Homo sapiens: one gene and its partners. The protein of the gene in region 2 interacts with the protein of the main gene of each other region in a biochemical or structural test. Each region holds a gene or a part of one and is shown on either strand. Other genes may lie near its edges.

Region 1 (7,421 bases), on a different chromosome or scaffold from region 2:
TCAGAGCTTTAATGTCCGTCCTGCTCTCCGAGTCAGGAATCTGATTTTCCAGCGTGCCCTGTAATGACGGTGCTGTCACCGCTGTGATGTCCGCTGTGAGGTGGGGACAGGACCTGGAAGTGGGGTTTCCAAGTGAGGGTTCTGGGCCCGCCCGAGTCATCTGATGTTGGGTCTGACAAGCCAGGAGCTGTGTGAGCCGGAGAACGTCCCCTAACCTGTCTGTGCCTCGGCTTCCCCATCTGTAAAATGGCGAGAGCTGAACTTACTTCCTGGTGATGGGGTCAAGTGCGTTAACACAGAGGGACTTGGAGACTGACGCTTACTGAGGGCCACACCAGCGGTCAGCAAAGGTTGTCTTAAAGGGTCAGGCAGTAAATATTTCCACCTTTGTGGGCCATGCGGCCTCTGTGGCAACTATGCGTTCTAAAACAGAAGCAGCCTTAGACACTGCGTGAAGGGACGCGTGTGGCCGTGTTCCACCAGAACTTTCTGTACACACATGGTGGTGGCCCGCCCGGACCCATCTGGTTAATTCTTGACTCTCAGGGCAGCGTCTCCTGTGCCTCCAGGAGAGGGCTGTGGTTCCTCCCTCTGAGCCGGGCACCTTGCATTCCTGGAAGGGGTGGGGGGAGTGGCGAGGAGGGGGCGGCACCAAGGACAGGGCCCACCTCCTAGGAGGTTTTGTGAGCTTCCCTCAGCCCCCGGCCGCCCCCTAGGAGGTTTCGTGAGCTTCCAGCATCCCCCTGCGGCCACTGTCCCTCCATTTCCCATGTCTGTTGGATGGTGCCGGTTCCAGGGCAGGGTCAGGGACTGGATCCGGCTGCGGTCTGCGTCTCGCCTGGTTCCTGAGAGCTGCACTTTGTCTTTGGTTGTTGATGAATCCATTTTTGCTGGCGTTCTTCACGTTTGTGTATTTGATTAAGTATCATGGACAGGCATGTGCAGTGGCTCACACCTGTAATCCCAGCCCTTTGGGAGGCTGAGGCCGGAGGATCACTTGAGGCCAGGGGTTCAAGACCAGCCTGGGAAATATCTCGAGACCCTTTCTCTACAAAAAATTTAAAAATTAGCTGGCGGTGGTGGTGCAAGCATGTGGTCCCAGCTCCTCGGGAGGCTGAAGCCGGAGGATTGCCTGAGCCTGGGAGGTCGAGGCTGCAGTGAGCCATGATCACACCACTGCACTCCAGCCTGAGTGACAGAGTGAGATCTTGTCTCAGAAAAACAGCCCCGAGGGCACGTGTCTCATGACTCCCGCCTCCCGCCTCCCATCTGGGCTCTGCTTGCTCCTCTCCCCTTGCAAACATGAGAGGAGCGTTAATGCCAGGACAGGGAGCAGGGAGGGGCATCCCCAGCGCCTCCAGGCCACAACATGGCGAGTGTGGCTACCAGGACACGGAGGGGCAGCCTCAGCCCCCTCCCCCAGGCCACGACATGGCGAGTGTGGCTACCAGGACACGGAGGGGCAGCCTCAGCCCCCCCCAGGCCACGACATGGCGAGTGTGGCTACCAGGACATGGAGGGGCACCTTCAGCCCCCCACCCCCACCCCCAGGCTGTGCTTCCCAGCATCCCTTGGGGTCAGGACTGTGTGTGTCACTGAGGGGCTACGGGTGAAGCCACACACGCCCCTGGCCTGGCCTTGCGCCCCTGCCTGAGAGCCTCTATGCAGGACAGCGCCTGTGGGGCACCCAAGTGGGCCGAGCCCATGTGGATTACAGGTGCACACCACCAGCGTGAGGAGAGGAGTGGGCTCGGAGCATGCTCAGCCATGGTCCCAGGCATCTTGTCAGCAGCCAGCTCAGCTTGTGTCACGCAGAGTCGCCTTAGAGTGAATTGACACCAGATTGTCCTGGTGGGTTTTTGCTCTGAAGAAATGTCAAAAGTAGCATTAAGGTTTTTCTGTAGACAAAAAAACCCCACCATCATTGCAGCTTGAGCAGTTGCAAATTAAATAAATTCCTTCCTCAGCAAGCTGCCTGGGTCCTAGGCCTTGGGCAGAGAGAACTGGCTTTCAGCACAGTTCCCGTGATTGGCTTTTCTCTGGAGAAGAAGGGGAAGCGGCCTCCGCCTCTACCTCTCTAAGTGTTTAAATGTCCCCCAAATTCTCTCAGCCTCCTGAGGCATTGTATTGATGCTTTTCTCTAGAATTCATGTATTTCTTTATTTTCTCTGGAAATGGCATTGGCTTTGTCCCCGTCCTATGGGCCGTGATAGCTTAAAGTTAGGATGAACCCACAGAGGCCGTGGAGGCCCTTCCCAGGCGCCGCAGCAGCACTGTTGGGGTGAACGTGGCTCCTCTCGGGGGGACAGGTGGAAGGGACCAGCACCCATTGGGGCGTGTAACTCCTGGTGGCAAAAAATGTGCGGTGAAGTCACCCTAAGGGTTTTTGTGGTTTTTTGTATTTTTATTTTATTCTTTGAGACAGAGTCTTGCTCTGTCGCCCAGGCTGGAGTGCAGTGGCGCAATCTCAGCTCACTGCAGCCTGTGCCTCCTGGGTTCAGGCGATTCTCCTGCCCTCAGCCTCCCGAGTAGCTGAGATTACAGGTGCACACCACCAGCCCTGGGTCATTTTTGTATCTTTAGTAGAGATGAGGTTTCACCATGTTGGCCAGGATGGTCTCGAACTCCTGACCTCAGGTGATCTGCTTGCCTTGGCCTCCCAGAATGCTGGGATTACAGGCCTCGTGAGCCACCACGCCCAGGCACTCTAAGGGTTTTGAATAAATTCTTTCTTAACGTTTTCTGACCGACTCTTAGGTCGTGGGTGTCCTCCAGGGGTTGGAGGCCTTCATGGAGCTTCGTTCCGTGGGGTTGACGTTACTGAACGAGTCCCTCCACGGGTGCACTGAGGACGTTCCTGCACATCGAGGGCACCCTCAGAGCTGCTCTTTCTGTCATTGCTATTTTGTTTATACCGGGGATTGGCAAACTTTTTCTTGAAGGGCCCAAGAGTAGACATTTTTGGCTTTGCGGCCACAGGGTCTCTGTTAGCAACTCCCTCTGCCACGGTGGCTGGAAAGCAGACATAGAAAATAGATGCACCAGTGAGCATAGCCTCGTTCCAATAAAACTTTATTTACAAAACAGGGAGCAGTGGACCAGCGAGTCCCCAAGGACAAGGGCCAGGTTACCAGAGAATTTCCAGGCACATCCGTTGGAGGCAGGGGAGACAACAAAAGCCGAGGAACGAGCCTTCCCCAGCCGCTCCCCAAAGGCACGGCTTATTCTTCAGGGTGCCCGACTGGCCACGTGGACGTCTCTCCAGCTCCTCACTTGGGGCCCAGGGCTCTTTCGATTTTTAGGAGTTTGTTTCCAATCAGAAACTTCACAGATGATTTGCAGCCAGTTCACCTGCCCTGTGTAAACTGGCCTCTGTCCTCTCTGGCTTAATTCTGGGAGCTTGTGGAGGGCAGGAGCAGGGACAGGTGCCTTGAGGCGTAACAGTGGCGGTGGTGTGGGAGCTTGCGTGGGATCGAAGGAAACGGGCAGAGTCACCACACGCTTCCCTCCTTCACTCCCCGCTCCACGAGGGGCAGCCAGGAGCAGCCACCAGTCGGAAGCAAATAAACAATTCAGGTGCCAGAGGAGCCGCTGACCTAAAAAAACCCGCCACAGGGTATTTCTGGGAGATTGTATGAGAATTTAATTTTGAAAATTGAGTCTCATGAAATGTAGGAAAAGATCTTATTAGGAAGAGAAACCATGTGGCCCAGTCCCTGAGACGGGAAGGGCCTGCGTGGTCCTGATGACATCTGCGGATCTTTTAAAATCATACGATCATGTCTGCGAAACCGGGATGCCACTTCCCACCTGGCTTCTCCCTGACCCCAGCTTGTTCCCTTGGAGGGCCGGTGGACTCCTCAGCCTTGCAGCAATGAAATCAGGCCTTGAGGCCACCCCACCCGTGACCTGCGGTGCTGTCCCCATGCAAGAAACTGCCTCGCTCCAGCCCCCAGCAGATCCTGTCCCAGCCCCCAGCCCTGGTCCAAGCCACCTCCACTCCCACCTGGTGACGGGCCACCTCCTTCATTCCGGGGCCCACCCACACTTCCCAAGTCCACACACAGTGGCCAAGAGTGAAGGCCGGCGAGGCCCCCGCATGACTCCCTCACCTGCACCCTTCACGAGCGGCCCCGCAGCCCGTCCCCACCAGCCCCTCTCTGCTGCCAGGGTGCTCCTGCTGCTCTTTGCTCTTTGCAAGACTGAACCTGCGGGAGGGTTCGGGCCCACGAAGGCCGCTTCTGTGGGGCTTCTGTCTAAGGAGGCCGCCGTCTGCCGAGGTGACTGCAGCCTCCGGCGCCTCTCTCCCTGCAGGTTGTTCCTGGTCATTGAGTACGTCAACGGCGGGGACCTGATGTTCCACATGCAGAGGCAGAGGAAGCTCCCTGAGGAGCACGCCAGGTGGGTGCGCGTGGACGGGGCCGGGTGGGTGCGCCCGGAGTTGGGGATGGGTGGGTGCGTGCGGTGTTGGGGGGCTGGGTGGGTGCGCACAGAGGGATGACGGGTGGGTGCGCGCGGAGTTGGGGGGCCGGGTGGGTGTGCGCAGAGGGGAGGTGGCTGGGTGGGGTGTGCACGGAGGGGGTATGACGGGGGCGGGGGGGGCGGGGTGCACGTGGAGGGGGCCGGGGACCTTCTCCAGGGGTCAGCAGGGAGCTCAAGGGAGGGAAGTCCAGGTAGGATGGCAGAGGGCATCATGTCCCCCACAGTGTGACGTCCCCTGCATTGTGACACATTCCATATTTGCTCCAGAGTCACAACATTTGGGAGGTCTCCTGAGTTATGGTGCCTCAGACCAGTCCCCCAGGCCCCACCCCTGAAGCAGCACCATGCCTCATCCGAGAGAAGTGAGAGTCTCCTGGGATTGTGCTGTCTTCATGGTGGCTCTGCCCTGGTTCTGCTCTTCACCCTGTTAGTGGCACAGCATGGCCAGCATTTCCTCAGCGTTAGGAGCAGAACGAGAGTGGTCTGTTTCTAGAGTGACCTGAGAGACTCCTTCCTGCCCTTCCCTTTCATCTCTGATATCTTCGGGCCTCCCCTGGCAGCCGAGGGGCCTCCAGCATGGTTCAGGAGCCTCCCCCGGCAGCCGCGGGACCTCCAGGACCGTTTGGGGGCTTATTTCAGCTCCCTGGACCTTTCCTGTCTTTTGTAGTTTCTCCTTTTCCTCATTTCCTTACTTAAGAACGTTGCATGCAGTTTTGTGAGTCACCTTAGATTGTTTCTGGCAATAGGACAGTAGGCAATAAATCTAGAACAGTACACTTCCCACAACGCTGTTTTTAAAAACTGTGGCAACACACAACATAAAAGGTAGCATTTTGGGGCATGGAATTCAGTGGCGTTGAATGCACCCCATGCTTTGCAGCCACTGCTGGCCCCCGTCTCATCTCCAGAGCACGCCCCTCTTCCCTGCTGAAGCTTGGCCCATCAGACACTCCCTCCCTGTCCCCCGCCCCAGCCTCACATCCTCACCCCAGACGGGCACGTCCCACTTTCTGTCCCTCTGATTCGAGGACTCTAGGGACCTCATCGGAGTGGAATCACAGTGTTGGTCCTTCGGTGGCTCATTTTCCTGAGCATAGCGTCCTCAAGATTCATCCGTGCTGTGGCCTGTCTCAGAATTGCCTTCCTTTTTCAGGCTGGATAATGCCCCGTTGGATGGAGGGGCCACACTTTGCTTATCCGTCCATCCCTCGGGGGGCACTTGAGTGGCATCCACATGTTGGCCATGGTGAACAGTGCTGCTGTGAACATGGGTGTGAAGTAATCTCTTGAACACCCTGCTTCCGGTTCTTTGGGGTATACACCCAGAAACTGAATTGCTAACCACATAAGAATTCCATATTTAGGCCGGGCGTGGTGGCTCACGCCTGTAATCCCAGCACTTTGAGAGGCCAAGGCGGGCGGATCACGAGGTCAGGAGATCGAGACCATCCTGGCTAACACGGTGAAATAACACAGTGAAACCCTGTCTCTACTAAAAATACAAAAAATTATCCAGGTGTGGTGGCGGGCGCCTGTAGTCCTAGCTACTCGGGAGGCTGAGGCAGGAGAATGGCGTGAACCTGTGGGCAGAGCTTACAGTGAGCCAAGATCGCGCCATTGCACTCCAGCCTGGGTGACAGAGTGAAACTCTGTCTCAAAAAAAAAAAAAAAAAGGTCATATTTAATTTTTTTTTTTTTTTGATGGAGTCTCGCTCTGTCACCCAGGCTGGAATGCAGTGGTGGGATCTCAGCTCACTGCAGCCTCTGCCTCCCAGGTTCAAGTGATTCTCCTGCCTCAGCCCCCAGAGTAGCTGGGACTACAGGTGTGCGCCACCATACCCGGCTAATTTTTTTGTATTTTTAGTAGAGACGGAGTTTCGCCATGTTGCCCAGGCTGGTCTTGAATTCCTGACCTCAGGTGATCTGCCTGCCTCGACCTCCCGAAGTGCTGGGATTACAGGTGTGAGCCACCAAGCCTGGCACCGTGTTTAATTTTCGAGGACCTGCCGGACTGTCTTCCGCAGCAGCGGCGCTGTTCTGCACTCCTACCACAACGTGCCATGGCTCCGGTCTTTCCCGCATGGAAGCTGTCGTGTTATTTGCCCGCTCCTCCCCTTGTGGAGGCTGCCACATCGTTCTCTGTGTCTTTGACAGCAGGCCATCCTAAGGCGCATGGGGTGGTGTCCTGGAGCTTTCATTGGCATTTCCCTCCCTGGCCCTGTGCACTGCACTTTCAAATCCTGGGCCTGGTCATTGAGAGGATGCCGGGCCCGTGGTGGGGCAAACGGGAGTGTGTGGCCCCCAGGCTGGAGCTGTTGGCGCAGCCTCTGGCACAGGCACTGCCCCCATGACGGCATCCCCACCCCCAGGTTCTACGCGGCCGAGATCTGCATCGCCCTCAACTTCCTGCACGAGAGGGGGATCATCTACAGGGACCTGAAGCTGGACAACGTCCTCCTGGATGCGGACGGGCACATCAAGCTCACAGACTACGGCATGTGCAAGGTGCGTGCCTTGGACCGCCTCCCCTGACCATCCCGCATGTGCGTCTCGGGGCGCCTGTCCCGCGGGGTAGTGTCTACAAGAACCCTCTCCCAGTAACTTTGCCCCCACAGGAAGGCCTGGGCCCTGGTGACACAACGAGCACTTTCTGCGGAACCCCGAATTACATCGCCCCCGAAATCCTGCGGGGAGAGGAGTACGGTGAGTGCCGCTGCCCTGGCCCCTCTCGGAGCACACAGGGCCAGAGATGGCTTCGGGCCTGGCCCAGCAGCCAGGGAGAGGTGTCCTTGACCATCTTACACCCAAAAGCCACACACTGTCTTTCCCAGCCGGATGTCATCATCTGGCCTCAGCCCCTTATTTGAATTCTGGAAAACCTCCCATGTCCACTTGAGCAGCTCCTTGGGGAGGGCACTGCACAGGATTCCTCCTGCCAG
Region 2 (7,421 bases):
TCAGGCAGCTCCCGGGACAGTGGAGGCCAAGTGGGAAGTGAACTGCGGCATAGAAGACAGCAAAACGTTACACTGTATTTTGTTTCTTTCTTTTCTTTAAATTTTTTATGAGACAGAATCTTGCTCTGTCACTCAGGCTGGAGTGCATTGGCGCAATCTGGGCTCACTGCAACCTCCGCCTCCCGGGTTCAAGCAGTTCTCCTGCCTCAGCCTCCCGAGTAGCTGGGATTACAGGCGCCCACCACCACGCCTGGCTAATTTTTGTATTTTCAGTAGAGACAGGGTTTCACCATGTTGGTCAGGCTGGTGTTGAACTCCTGACCTCAGTTGATCCTCCCGCCTCGGCCTCCCAAAGTGCTGGGATTACAGGCATGAGCCACCGCGCCCGGCTAGTATATTTTCCATTCAACATAATTCTGCCAGTTCTAGTCGTCATCATCCAGTCTACTCTACTCCTCTACCGAGCACAACCCCCTTCTTTAGAAAGCCAGCAGCATTTTGTATACATGGCAGGGTATTGAGCAAATATTTTGCCATGGGAAAATTACTTGGGAACTTCTAAGCTTCCTAATAAAACTATAAGCACTTCAAGGGCAAGAATGACATCTATTTTCTCTTAACATACCCTGAAATGGACGGCATAGTATTTTTGTACACAGTAGACACCAAGGAATTTTTAAAAAGTAATGGTACGTTTGCTGTATGTGAGGAGCCTACAACATAGTTCTATAATTTTTTGCTTTGATAGCAAGTTTAGCAAACATGGTAGCTTTCAACCATACAAGAAAGATGAAGAAAATGAGTATCCATAAACGTTCCTCATCAGATGAAGACTCACGCAGGACATAAAATGTTATTCTCTAAATATGGAAAAAGCATCAAAAATACATGATGCAAATAAAAATAAACTGTCAACAAAAAGCTTTAGTATCAATTAGTTATTCTAATGCAAATTCAATTTATCAGTGAAACAGAAAGGACTTCCTGATCACATGAAAGCACACATTTGAGAGCTTGTGTGGGTCTATTCAGATGAGCTGTGTCGACCTGGAAACACCGAGGCACTCACGGTCTGTTTCCTTCCTTCACTTACAGCAGCAATCCTAAGTTAACCCGGAGCTCATTAAAATACATATTCCTGGGCCCGACCCCAAGACTGTGGGGTGGTATGCCAGGGTGGGCCTAGGACTCTGCATTTAATTTGAATTCTCAGTGTAATGTGTGCAGGTGGCTGCAGACCACAGGAGCCAGCTTGTCCCCTCTCCTGGTGAGCAGGTCAGGGGGCCACGGCAGATGCTTGGCTTGGGAGTTGGGCGTCCAGCCACCAAGGCAATTCTGTCCCTGCTAGGACTCTAAACTGATCCAGGTAGCTTTGTTTTGTTTTCCGTGTGTATTGACCTCTGGAGCTTTAGGTTTCTTAATCAGGCTCCAGGTGAAAAGCAGATCTGAGTAGAGCATTTCTCTGTCTCTCTGGGTTGGTGGTCAGCCGGGAAGCAGCCTAGGGCACCTGCACGGAGTCTGCGGGTGGAGCTGCCCTGAGCTCCATCCCTTCCCAGCACAGGGCATTTTGCTCTTGCCTGCAGGGCAGCATGGGCACACCTTCCTACCTGGAAGGAGCAGGGCTCTCTGGGAGCATCCCGTGTCACCAGATGCCCCAAAAGACGGGCCGCAACACCAGCAGTCCCCTGAACTGCTGAGAAACCTCCCTTTCTCCAGCCTCCTGCCTCCCCCTCATCTCTGCCTCTGGGTCCTTTGTTTCCATGTTCTATCTCCTCTTTATTACTTGCCTTTTTATACATTGTATATGTGGTCTCTAATGTAAAATTAAACAGGTAATTTGGTTAATCACTTACTATGAATAAAACTTCATTTTCTTTCTTGACCTTTGGAAAATTGGGGAGCTGAATATTAATCCCTTTACTCTTAAAGGAAGTGAATTGATGTAAACATAAATCGCTAGAATAACTCTTCTGGCCACCACGCCTCCCACCCCCCACCCCGTGCTGGCCTCCTTTCTTGGGGCTCAGTAGCTGCTGTGGTCGCTGCCTGCACCTCCTTCCCCAGCTGCACCCCCGGAAGTGGGGGTTGGACGCGGGGCAGCTGGGGCCGCACTGGCCTGGGTGCCTGTCTCAGGTGAGTTCGGAGGGGATGGGAGAGGAAAGGAGCAAAGTCTCCCTCGGGGCCAGTGGGGGAGAGCCCACCCACAGGAGATAGGAGATAGGGCTTTGGGGACTTCCTGAGGCTGTTGAGCGGGCAGCCACACTTTACCTCCAGAGTTTCTGAGCCAGGTCGCCTGCAGAGTGACAGGAAGTGGGGCCCTGGTTTGCTGGCCTCTGTCTGAATCATGCTAGACTGCTCTTAGAGGCCCAGCTCATTATAAATCCTGGCAGCCAAGAAGGAAAAAGGGCTGGATCCCCATACAAATTTTGTTCCTTAAATCTTTTCAGATTTAGCTAGATTCTCATGGTTCTTCCTCAAGTCATGGGCTCAAGAGTGAGGTTGCAAACACCTAGTTAATCCCCAGGCCTGTGCTGAATCCAGCCCACTCCTCTGAGGTCCCGGCTCCTGCCCGTTTCTGCACGCTTCTCTTTTTAGATCAATTTCTTTATCCTTCCTTTCTGCACTTATATTACTTGAACAAATGACAACGAAGAGGAGGGAGACTGTCTCTCCTGCCCTTTCTTCTTCCTCTCCTTCGCCTTCCTTGTCATTGTCATGCTCTTACCAAATTTCAGTAATTTCACCTCCACACCTGCTTTCAGATTCCTTTGTGGGGCCTTCTAATCTTCCTCTCTAACACTTCATTATCGCTGGTGTCATTTCCCCCCAAACTTTACATTGGTTTATTTATTGCTAATATAAATTACTAATTAGTTCGAACATATTAAAAAGCACAGATAATAATCTACAAGACAACTGGCTTATCCTTTTCATCAAAAAAAGTAACACATTCTGTTATTTGTATAAAATCTCAAAATATTTTTAAGAAATAAAACCATGCAGAGACAGCCAATTCCCTCCCCTCCCCGAGATTAGAAGATAACATTACCTGGCTTCTATATGTCATATAATCCCACGTAATCATGACCACATGTTCTTTTGTGGATTTGAAAATTTTAAAGAAATAGAATAATACTATATATATTCATTTGCAGTTTGCTGGTTTCCATTCAACACTGTTATTTAGAATTTTGTCCATGTTGATACACAAAGTCTGGGTAGTTTAACTGTTGTAAGTAAATCATAGCGTAAATCTATAGCCCTACTCATGGGGAATTAGTGTGTTTCCCTCCTTTTTTTTTGTATCAAAACTTTTACTCGATAAAATATGTACACCTAGTTCAGTAGTGCTGAGAGGGAATTCATACCCTGAAATACTTATATTAGAAAGCAGGAAAAGTCTCAAATCAATAATCTAAGATCTAATTCAAGAAACCAAAAAAAAAAGAGCTAAATATATACAAACAAAGTAGAAGGAAGGAAATACCCAAGAAAGAAATCCCCAGGCCCACATGGTTTCACCGGAAATTTCTACTAAAACAGTTAAGGAGAAATTTATGGCAATTTTATACAATCTCTTCCAAAAGTTAGAACAAGTGGGAACACTTTCTAACTCATTTTATGAGGCCAGTTATCCTGATACTGAAACTAGCAAAGACTATACAAAAAATGAGAACTATAGATCAATATCTCACAAACACTTAGAGGCAAAAGTCCTCAACAAAATATTAGTAAAGTGAATCTAGCAACACATAAAAAAGTTATATACATGGCTAAGTGGAATATATATCAGATACTCAAGGGTGGGTCAGCATTAGAGAGTCAGTCAATCAACTATCCATCATACCATGAAGTCAAAGAAGAAAAATCTCATGAACATATAAATTGTCCCAGAAAAGACATTTGACAAAATACAACACACATTCATGAATAGACATGGACTATTGACTTGATAAAGAACATCCATAAAAATCCTATAGCTACATCATAATTGGTGGTAAAAACTCAGTGCTTTGCCCTTTAGGTCAGAATAAGGCAAGTTCTTGCAACTCTTATTGAATATAGCACTGGACATTCTAACCAGTACGGTAAGATAAGAAAAAGAAATAAAAAGTATATAAATTGGAAAGAAGAAATAAAACTATCCAATTTGCAGATAACATGATGATCTACATAGACAATCCCAAGAAATCTACCAAAAAAAATCCTCCTAGATCTAATAAGGCAGCTCAGTAGGTTGCAGAATGTGGACTGACACATAAAAATTACTCACAGTTCTACCTACTCCACAATAAACGTGGAAACTGAAGTTAAGACACAATGCCATTTAGAAATGCCCCAAAGAAAATAAAACACTTATGTACACTGTAAAGAAATTTCAGATTCAGAATCTGTGCACTGAAATTTATAAAACATTGATGAAAGAAGTTAAAGAAGACCTAATTACCCATAGAGAGACAACCTGTGATCATGGATTGGAAAACTCAACACAGTAGAACTATTAATTCTCCCTAATCTATACATTTGAAGAAATTCCTATCAAAATCCCAGCAAGGTTTTTGCACCCATAAACGCGCTATTCTAAAATTCATATGGAAAGGCCCAGAACCTACAATAGCTAACATAAGTTTTATAAAGAATAATAAAGTGGAAGGAAGTCACTCCACCTGATTAAAGTTGACTATGCAACTACAGTAATCAAGACAGTGTGCTCTTGGCAGAGAGACTGACATATAGACTAATGGAACAGAATAGAGAACCCAGAAATAGACCCACAGCAATAAGTGGAAACGGTTTTTAGCAAAGGTGCAAAAGCAATTTAATGGAAGAAGGATCACCTTTTCAACTAATAGTCCCGGAGCTATTGGACATTCGTTGGCAAAACCCAAACCAAACCAAAACAAATAAGCCTCAACCTAAACCTCACACCTCATACAAAAATTAACTCAAAATGGAAAATAGGCTTAAGTATAAAATGTGAAACTATAAAATTTGTAGGGAAAAAAGGAGAAAATCTTCGGGAACCTCAGGCTAGGTGAAGACTTAGACTTCACACCAAAAATCAAAATCCAAAAAAGGTAAAATTAATAAACTTGAATTCAACAAAATGTAAAACTTTCTGCAAAGGACTCTGTGAAGAGGGTGAAAAAACAAGATAAAGTGGTAGAAAATAATCACCGAGTGGTAAGGCCAGCATCTAGAAAATATAAAGAATTAGGAAAACTCAGTTGTTAAAACCAAACAATCCAATTAAAAAGTAGGCAAAAGACATGAACAGACTTTTCACTGAGGAGGATACACAGATGGCCATAAGTACATAAAAAGGTCTTGATGTCATTAGCCATCAGGACAATGCAAATTAAACCATCAGGAGATATCACTACACACTTATTAGAAGAGCTAAAATAATAAAAAAAAAAAATAGTGGCAATACCAAATGCTGCCCAGGCTGGGAAGGTCCTGAATCACTCACACACCGCCGGTGGGAATGCAAAATGGTGTAGCCATTCTGGAAAAGAGTTAGCAGTTTCTCATAAAATTAGACATGTGCTAACCATATGACTCAGCAATTGCACTCCTGGGCATTTATCCCAGAGAAATGAAAACTATGTTCACACAAAAACCTGTACAAGAATGTTCACAGCAGCTCTATTTGCAATAACCAAAACCTGGAAATAATCCAAGTGCCCTTCCTGGGTGAACGGTTGAACACACCTTGGTTCATCCAGATGACGGAACACCACTAAGTAATTAAAAAGAAACACCTATGGACATGCTTGCCAACCCGGATGGGTCTCAAGGGAATTGCGTTTAGCGGAAAAAGCCAGTCTCGAAAGGTTGCATAGTGTATGATTCCATTTATAGAGCATTCTTAAAGCGACAAAATTATAGAAAATAGGAACCATACTGTGGTTGCCAGCCTCAGGGAGGGGGAAGGAGGAAGTCAGCTTGGCTATAAAGAGTAGCATCAAGGATCCTGTGATGAAACTCTCCTGTCCTCTGATGTGTTGGTGGTCACATGGTTCTACATGGGTGATAAAATTACAGAGAACTAAGCGCACGTGCATACCACACACACACACACACACACACACACACAGAGCAGTCTATAAAATGAGTACATGTAAACTGGTGGAATCTGAAATCTGAACAAAGTTAATGGGTTGTATCAATGCTCATTTTCTAGTTGTGGCATTGTACTATGGTTTTGTAAGATGTTATTGTTGGGAGAAACTGGTGAAGGGAATTGCATGTGAATCTACATGATCTCAAAACAGGGTTTTACTACATTGCTTCAGTGAATATCCACTGTGTGTGTCTTATGCACACAGACCAGGTTTTCCCTAGAGGAGATACCTAGAAGTGGAATTGTTAGATCTTAGGATACACCCACCTTCACTTTTTCTAGATTATTCTCTAACATCTTTGTTCCTATTTACATTCTAGTCGAACTCATGTGAGGTCTAAGTTTTCTACACCTTCTCTAATATTTGGTATAGTCACAATTTAAATTTTTTTCCAGTACCGTAAAGGTAAAAAAAAATCTTTTTGCCATCTTAGTTTTGAATTCCCTGATTCCCAGAGGGTTAAAGTCCTTTTCTTATTTTATCAGTCCATCTGGGTTTTCTCATTAGTCTCATATTTTACTCTTGAGTGGCTTGTTTCAAATTACCACATTTTAGAACTGTTTCTGTATTCTAGATCCTGGCCTCACATAGGTCTGTTTCTCCTCATCTTTTAGATATCCACCTATTTTTCACAATGGTGACTCAGACCAACGCAGTGCTATTCACAGAGTCCAGAACAAAAGAACATTCGGAATGACATTTTTACGCTTTAATGGCTATTGAGTGTGAGACATTACTAATAGCTTTGGAACATGCACTCGTGGTTGTTGCTGGCATGTGGGAGATGTTGCTGTGGAAGGCAGCTTCAGTCGGCCGGGGAGATCAGCTGCCTTCTGGCTGGCCTGTCCTACAGACGTCCCACAAACCTGGCCAGCCCACCTCTGCATAAGCCATTCCTTGCCATGAGTCTCTAATGTGTATCTCCACCTGCTTCTGTTTCTCTGGATGAAGCCTGTCCACTACAGGTTTTGACAGAGATTTAAAATCTCCTGTAGAGACTATTCCAGCTACTCGCCTGGCATTTCTGCTCAGCTGGCATTAGGGCCTGTGGCATGAGCACTCTTCCCTTAAACAGCTCCAGAGCTTCCTTCACGGGTTCCAATGGGCCAACAGAAGTGTCTTACTACTTAATGGCCACTTATTTAAAATTATCCCAAGAGTAATTAGAGGCCAGGCGCGGTGGCTCATGCCTGTAATCCCAGCACTTTGGGAGGCCGAGGTGGGTGGATCACTTGAGGTCAGGAGTTTGAGACCAGCCTGGCCAACATGGTGAGGCCCCATCTTTACTAAAAA
Region 3 (7,421 bases), on a different chromosome or scaffold from region 2:
TGTTAAGTCTCTCAGGGAGAGGGCCAGTGGAATACTCCCACAGTGCTTCAAATACCCCATTGCAAACTCCCAGTTTAGGTGTGATCAGCTCACTTCCCTGAAGGTTTCTGACAGGAGGGTTTCTTCTCTGATTAGTAAGAGGGTTTCCTCTCAGATTAGCAGTTACGTTTGTTTGCAGGCATTTTAGTGACACCTCACAACAAAATTTAGTGAAATAAAGCAGCATTTAAAAAGACTTGCTATTTACTGAGTACTTGCTTTGAAGTACTATGCTGAACAGTTGAAATGTATTTTTATAATCTTTACCATATACAAGGCAAGTAATATTGCTTCCACTTTACAGCTGACAGTCTGAAGCAGAGGAAGAAAGCAGAGACGCAGAATGACTGGCCCACAGCCAGCCGCAGTTATAAGCAGGGGGTAGTTCTGAACCCAGCTGGATGGGTCCAAGGCCTGTGCTCTTTCCATAACACCACATCCAAAACATTTTCCAGTATCTTTGTTTTGTAAATAAGTCATTACATAATGCCCAATATTGATAAGAACCAAATGTCCAAGAAATCCTATCTTTATGACTTCTTGCTCTGAAAAAAGGGGTTGCCCAGGATGTCTGCCCAGCAGTGGGGTTGCAGAAGTTCAGGAGGATGAGGAGATGGGCGTGGGCACCGCCTACCCCCCCCCCCACAGGTGAAGGTCTGAAGAACCACCTGGAGAACCCTAGGAGCACTGACATCCCCATTCAACTCGAGGAACAGCTCACAGCCCTAACACAAGTTACCACATGCAGAGCAAATCTGGAAGACATCTGGGGAACATAACGAAGGACTAGACAATTTCACGTTTTCACAGATGAAACTGCAATTAAACTATACATGCACGGTGCTGTGTTATTTTGGTAATACAGGGACACAATTTAATGATTCTAAGGATTTTTTTGTAGTTTTTTTTTTTTACAAGTCAGGTGCCATAAACATTCAAATAATCCATCTTTTAAAAAGTACGTTTACAACATCAAAAGAATTAAGATGAAATATAAACCTTTCTACTTACAATTTTTATACAGATTAACCAAATCACAAATACCACAAATAAATGTTAATGTTAAATTGTAACAATATAATGAATAAACATTCAGATTCTTAATAAAATCTTCCTTTAACATTTTTTAACTTACCATTATACTAAATAATCTATGCAGAATTTTGGGGTACAATACCAAGAAGGCACCAACAGTACAAAGCAGATACAAAGCAGTTTCAGAACTTTCTTGAGTGCTCTACACGCATAAACAGCACAAGAAAAGGCAACAAGCTTTAGGTAAACCTGGTGCAACCCTGGAGGACTTGCTCTGGATTTCCATTTGTTTCTGACCCATCATGTCAAGGTGGATGACGTAAGAGAAACCACATATTCACTGTTATAGCTTCTCATCTGCACCACAGGAGTATCATGTTTCAAACACCAGCATAACAATTTTAAAGCACAAATGCTTTAAAAATGTATAAGCAAAAGGATTGCTCAGATTTTCAAAACCATTACATTTACAAAAATATTTCCCTTAAACTTGGGATTGCTCCAAAACATTGATTTACAAATATAAAAGTATTATGGAAGGACCCAAAGCATGTGTGCGTATGTATGTGTGTATTAACATACTGTTACCATACTATATAAAAGTTACCAATTTAAAAACCATATTAACATATAAGCAAATAAAGAGAAAACAGTTTCCTCTGAATGGCTGAAATATTACGTGGCATGTGGTTGGGTAGTTTACTTTTGTGATTCCTTAGAGAAAACCACTGGTGAGCTACATGTAGCTTCTCAAAGCTACTGGTTACCTCTACACCCACTGCCTGTGCCCAAGAGCAGAAGGAATGAGTGTGCACACACCACACACTGTGCACTGCACACACAATACAGTATTCTTCTACCCAGATGCCACAATGTCTGCGTATCTCTGCTAGCTTTGAGGACCTGTGTCAGGACAGAGTCCTCATGATTAGTTCTTTCAATTCCATCCCACTGGCTTGTTCAGTATTTCTTTTATACTAAATGAAAGGACTGGAATGTTTCAGCAGGAATTTTTTGCTTACATTTTAGACACCAAAAAAGCTATTAGTCTGAAAGCTTATTTGAACATACAAATAGTGGAGGTGCTGTTCCGTGTCACTAATATGAATTAAGATGACCTAATCTGTACATTTTTACAAATGTAAGAAGAGCCAAAATGATGCATCTACTACACATGATAGCTAGCGCTTTTCATAGGTACCTTGGTTAGGACCATTCTCTGCCCAGTTACATTATGTTTGGCATGATTAATAAAAAGCACACAACTTATGGCTACAATGATTCTAGAATGAAGTTAGTGGTTTCATGCCAATCTGACTCCACAGTACCAGGAAGGGGAATGGGAAGGAGCTCACAGTCTCCAGATGTTAGTAGCCAAGGATATGGTTTTCTATTTAGAAGAGGACTCCAAATTAACCTTATAATAGTAACTTTCCATTTAAAAAGAAACAAGAGTAATAAAACTGTCAATGCTTTTTTATAAATGAAAACTGACTAATCAGTGTTATCCGGTAACAGTCACATTTCTGTGTCCCGTCAATGCTGTGTGGACCTTCAGACGGCAGCTCTGAGCACGCAAGTGAAAAGCGCGTATTTCAGGGCAAGAATAGAGATGTGGGTCTGTTTTCCGAGGATGAGCCAGCTATCCTTCCTCAGCCACAGGAGTGGTGAGCGTGAGCACCCTGGGCTGGGTGGTGAGGACTGCGTACTGTGGGGCGGCCCTTCCCAACTCTTGGCTGTGCCCAGCAGCACCTCTGGGGCACAAGGGCAGGCCCTCTTTAGAGAGAACCAGGGAATCCAACCTGAGATGTCGGGGCTTCTTTGTTAGGGTTTGACAGAATATTTGAGACCTAAGATTGTGAATAAAGGAACATGACAGCATCGATTCTCTGCCGAGCAGAGGTAAAAAGGACCCTACAGAAGTACCTTTCTAACTCATCTTATGTAAATCCAAGTGCTGGGCCAGTGCCTGGGCGGCAAAGTGAGGCCTGTGAGCATTTCTGTGTTCAGCACAACCTGAACCTGACTGTCCATTCAGACACGCTGATCCAGAGGAAAGCAACACTGAATCTTAACATGAATGTGAAGATAGAAGATGTACATTTATTTTCATGAATTACAAATGCATTTCTGTTCATATTAGCAGGCAGTCTTTATATAACCCATTCTCCATTGCTGTCAAAAATCAAACAAGAAAAAAGGACAGCTGAGAAATGAAAAGCTAAAAATAGAATTATTTTTCCTAAATGATCTGCTGGATAGCATTTTCCGTGGAACACAACTCAGAGGTAACAATAGAGTTTTCATTTCAATCGTAGGCATGTGGCACTTGGACAGTCATCTCTGCACAGAAAGCTGTAACAGTCATGCGAGGGTACAGTAATTATTGAACAAGGCAAATTTCTCACCACAGAGAGCAGTGGGGAAGTCAAGAGGAGGCACCGCACTGGGACAGAACACCGAGTCAACTCCACAGTACACAGTGGCAGGAACAAATACTTAAAGAGATCAGTAAAATATGGATAGAGCTCCAAACACGAGTTAGTGCTAGCTTTTTCTGACAGTCTGACTCAGCAGTATCAGAAATATTTGAGTACTTGAGGACAGAACAGTGCTTCACGTCATGAGCTCCTGGAGGCTTTATTACAAATTGTTATACTGTAGGTTGAAAAATGAACTTGAGATGCTGACATGCTGTAGAAGGAAAAAGAATTGTATACTTTCTCATTTAAAGACGCAGTGTTCCTCTCTGCTAAATCCTCAGGCATGGAACGTGGTTACTGAAACACCCACATTTGAAGTAGCTCAAGGGCGTATATGCACCAGCATGTGGAGTTCCACCCTGGGACATCCCCAGAAACCGCCCACAGCTCAGCACTGCAACCTTTGTACTTCTCTCACCAAATGTCGAGTGAAGCTGCCACTTTAAATCTTTTTTTGTAAGTCTTACAAACATTAAGTACTGCACATAACGCTTCTTGACAAGTGTTACACCTCTATATGGTACAAGTGACCACAGTAACTACAGAGTGACACTGCTGGGTGCAGTACTTCCTTTTTATTTAGAAAAATGACTGCATTTTCTAAAAGCTGGGCCAATAGCACATACCTTATATATGTTAGTGACTACCATGATATGAGAAAAGACGTGGACAAGTGCTCCCCAAGGATTCCGGAGACGGAAGCACTTGCTGCAGGCTGCAACATCAGCCAAGGTATTTCCACAAGCTCCTGCTCTGGGGAAACAGTTATGGTCAAAAGGTGAAGTGCAAATAAGGGGCTGTCACTGACTTAAAGTGCCCTAGGTAGTAGCCTTCCCTATCATAAAGTGAGATGCCAGTGACTAGAGCCAATTGGGGAAGAATCTCTCTCTGGTGCGGCTGCATGGTCAGCAGGGCATCATGTAGAAAAGGATTCAGGAGAGGGAGGAACCACTGCATCTTTCAAACCAGAAAGCAATTAGTGACTAAAGCAACAGTAAGCAGTAGGTGCACTGAAGTACATACTGCCGCAGGTCACCAATGGGTGACACACACAGGGCTGCCAGGAGGAATTCTCTGGACTGAAGAAATTCTTTGAAAGCATAAAAGCCACAACTACCAGAAACCGCCCCTCCAAACGGCTCAAAGGAGTCAAAGTGGATAAGCCAAGACGGGCTGGAGACAGGACCAGGGGTCAAGAACTGGGAAGAAGAACACCGATGTCTGAGCACGTCCAGTCCTCTGAGCCCTTGTCCTATAGAAACACAAACAGACCACTGAGTTAAGAGTGAGCCATGTGAAAACAGCATCATCATCAGCATCACAAAACACAAAAGTGACAACAGTGAACCACATTAAAACAGCAGCAGCAGCAATAGCATTATGAAAACAGAAAAGGGAAAAAAGACTCCTGCAAAATGGCCATTTCTTTGGACACATTTGGGCAAGGATAACACATGGCAGTTCTGAAGGGGCCAGGGTCAGCCCTCACTCCACAGGCACCTCCTCTCAGACAGTTCTGAGGTGGTTTCCACAACACTCATAGGAAAGACGCCACTCCCCCAGCCTACGCTGACTGCAGTGTTCCTAAGATGTCCTTTATTTACCGTAAGATATCCAACACTAGTGCATGAAAATCTAGCAGAGTATCACTTACTATTTCACAGAGCACTTTCAGAGCTGTGGTTTCCATCTGCCACTCAGGAGGTGGGGCAAGAAGAATGGGCTAACTATAGCCAAACTGTGGACTTGGAGATGGGCTAAGAGGGAGAAGTGGTCTCTTTTATGTAGAGGTGAACTGCAGCCAAACCTACGGGTTGGCAGGAAATTAAAGCTGCCCTAAAATGCTTTCATCTTCAATAAACCAAAGGGAAATGCGGTTCATGCCCCTAGTGATCAATCCACCTGAGAAAATTCACAATCAGGCAGATGAAGAAGGAAGTTGAGCACTGACCTCTACCTTCACCCGCCTCACAGGGTAGGAGACTGAGGACATGGGCTGGGTAGGAATGAGGCTTGTCACAGGTAGTAGGCATGATCAGCTTTTAAACTTGCCCATGGAAACATTTCTAAAACTGACCCCCTTAAGCAAAATACAATGAATATAATTTGACCCTTTTTTAAGACCTTTCGGCCACCACTACAAATATCACTTCATTGCTTCCTCTACCAAAGGGGCCCCACAGCTGTGCTCTGTGGTCCTGGGGTGTATGTTTCTAAGCCTTTCTTGCTGCAGCCAAACGGTCAACCGTGCCCTCCCAGTGTTCCCATGTTTTATTACACCTTTACCTCCTGAGCTCTCCAATTCAGAGCTCCTGATCTCCAGTGTGTGGGCTGGGAACTCAGAGACAATGCTCCTTAGTATTGTGAATGAGTCCTGAGAACTTTCCCAAGGAGCAAGGCTAATCACAGGCAGTGTGCAGCCTGCCACTGTTTCATGCTGGCAAACATTTCAAGAAAATGACATTCTGGGTCCAAAATACCTGGATTCTCTGCCTAGTTTTGCCACTTGATGTACAATTTTGAGCGAAGTGCTCAAAGGCTCCTGTCTTCAGTTTCCTCAATTATAAACATGGATGCATGCTGACTTCCCAAAATTCTGTTGTGATCACCAAAATGAAATGTTTATGAAAGAACCTATCCCATAGTTTAATCAGCCAACCCAGCCCCAGCTTCCCCTGGATTCATGTGATATTCTAGATGACTAAATTGTAAGTCAGTCTAGACGTTGGCAACGTCCTTTGCAATGAATGGATAAAATGCGATGGGTTGATGGGTGGATAGAGGAACAGATGGACAGATCTATGAGAAAACAAGTAAGATGTTAATGTTAACTGTATAATCTAGGTGGTGGGAATATGGGTGTCTACTTTAAATTCCTTCAACTTTTCAGAATAGTTGAAAACTGTCACTAAAAGAATGTTGGGAAAAAAAATCATGCTATAAGCACATAGGGAGCATCTGTGTGTCTTCTGTGTCTGGAGCAAATGAACAACGCACAGAGGTGACTGTCCTTGCCACGCCGGGACTCTCAGAGTGGTGGTGGACCTGAGAGGGATACTGGTCCCCCGCCTTGCAAAGCTGGCTTCAGGAGGCGTTCTGCCAGCAACTGCGCCCTGTGGCCTCAGGAGCAACCCTGCCTCTGTCTTGCCATCCTTGTGCCTGCGGTGCTGCCTGTCTCTTCAGTGGCCTGACCAGTTTTCCCCCAAGTCCCTGCTCTCAGAGGTCCTCCTGCATCCTTACTGCCACCAGAGTCACCTGAGCCACTGCTTCAGGTCAGGCAGCTACCTGTGAGGGAGAGCTGGCCTCCTGGGGAAGCAAGGGCCACAGCCTGGGCTGGCCTCTTTCTCTGCAGCCCCCCTCTTGCCCAGCTGTCTGGCATGCCCGCCTTCCAGGGTCCACACAGCTGTGCCCCTCCCCAACCAGCAAAGAACCCAACTGTCAGGTTTCAGCTGCAGCACAACTGCCGCGAGTCGGCCACACTCTGTGAGGCTTTAATGTCTGCCTTACTCTCTGGGACCCACCATGCCTGTGTCCATCTCTGGGACTCTGTATACTCCTTGTTGTTTACATTTCCTGCTATGAGGCTGCTGGAAAGCAAAACCTGGGTTTTATTCATCTTTGTTCCTTTCCTAACTGGCGAAAGGAAGTGCTCAATGCTGATTAAATGATGAAAAACAAATTATCACGTCAACCCCAGAAGCTCTTTTATACTAAAAATGTGCACAGTTGTGTGTGTGTGTGTCTTTCTCCCCTACTACATGGGCCCCTCTGAGGCTGTGTTTAGGTCCTGCTTGCCGCGTTTGCTGTTAGTGTCTAATGCAGACTAAGCAGGCAGCACTGCCGCCTGACCTGAAGCGACAGAGA

Evidence for each region.
Region 1: of the proteins of MBP (region 2) and PRKCZ, one has a biochemical effect on the other in vitro, tested with the Homo sapiens proteins (2 studies listed by BioGRID).
Region 3: of the proteins of MBP (region 2) and MAPK1, one has a biochemical effect on the other in vitro, tested with the Homo sapiens proteins (16 studies listed by BioGRID and IntAct).

Annotation. Positions count from the first base shown.
Region 1 is NC_000001.11:2,165,204-2,172,624, forward strand, and holds part of PRKCZ (protein kinase C zeta type), read left to right. Parts: intron 1-3,087; coding exon of another isoform or gene 3,088-3,364; exon of another isoform or gene 3,365-4,247; intron 4,248-4,290; coding exon of another isoform or gene 4,291-4,314; coding exon 4,315-4,401; intron 4,402-6,851; coding exon 6,852-6,987; intron 6,988-7,097; coding exon 7,098-7,185; intron 7,186-7,421. UniProt on the Homo sapiens protein: Calcium- and diacylglycerol-independent serine/threonine-protein kinase that functions in phosphatidylinositol 3-kinase (PI3K) pathway and mitogen-activated protein (MAP) kinase cascade, and is involved in NF-kappa-B activation, mitogenic signaling, cell proliferation, cell polarity, inflammatory response and maintenance of long-term potentiation (LTP).
Region 2 is NC_000018.10:77,122,452-77,129,872, forward strand, and holds part of MBP (Golli-MBP), read right to left. Parts: exon of another isoform or gene 5,909-7,421; intron 5,198-5,908; exon of another isoform or gene 1-5,197. UniProt on the Homo sapiens protein: The classic group of MBP isoforms (isoform 4-isoform 14) are with PLP the most abundant protein components of the myelin membrane in the CNS. They have a role in both its formation and stabilization.
Region 3 is NC_000022.11:21,759,432-21,766,852, forward strand, and holds the end of MAPK1 (mitogen-activated protein kinase 1), read right to left. Parts: intron 4,810-7,421; 3' UTR 226-4,809; downstream 1-225. UniProt on the Homo sapiens protein: Serine/threonine kinase which acts as an essential component of the MAP kinase signal transduction pathway. MAPK1/ERK2 and MAPK3/ERK1 are the 2 MAPKs which play an important role in the MAPK/ERK cascade.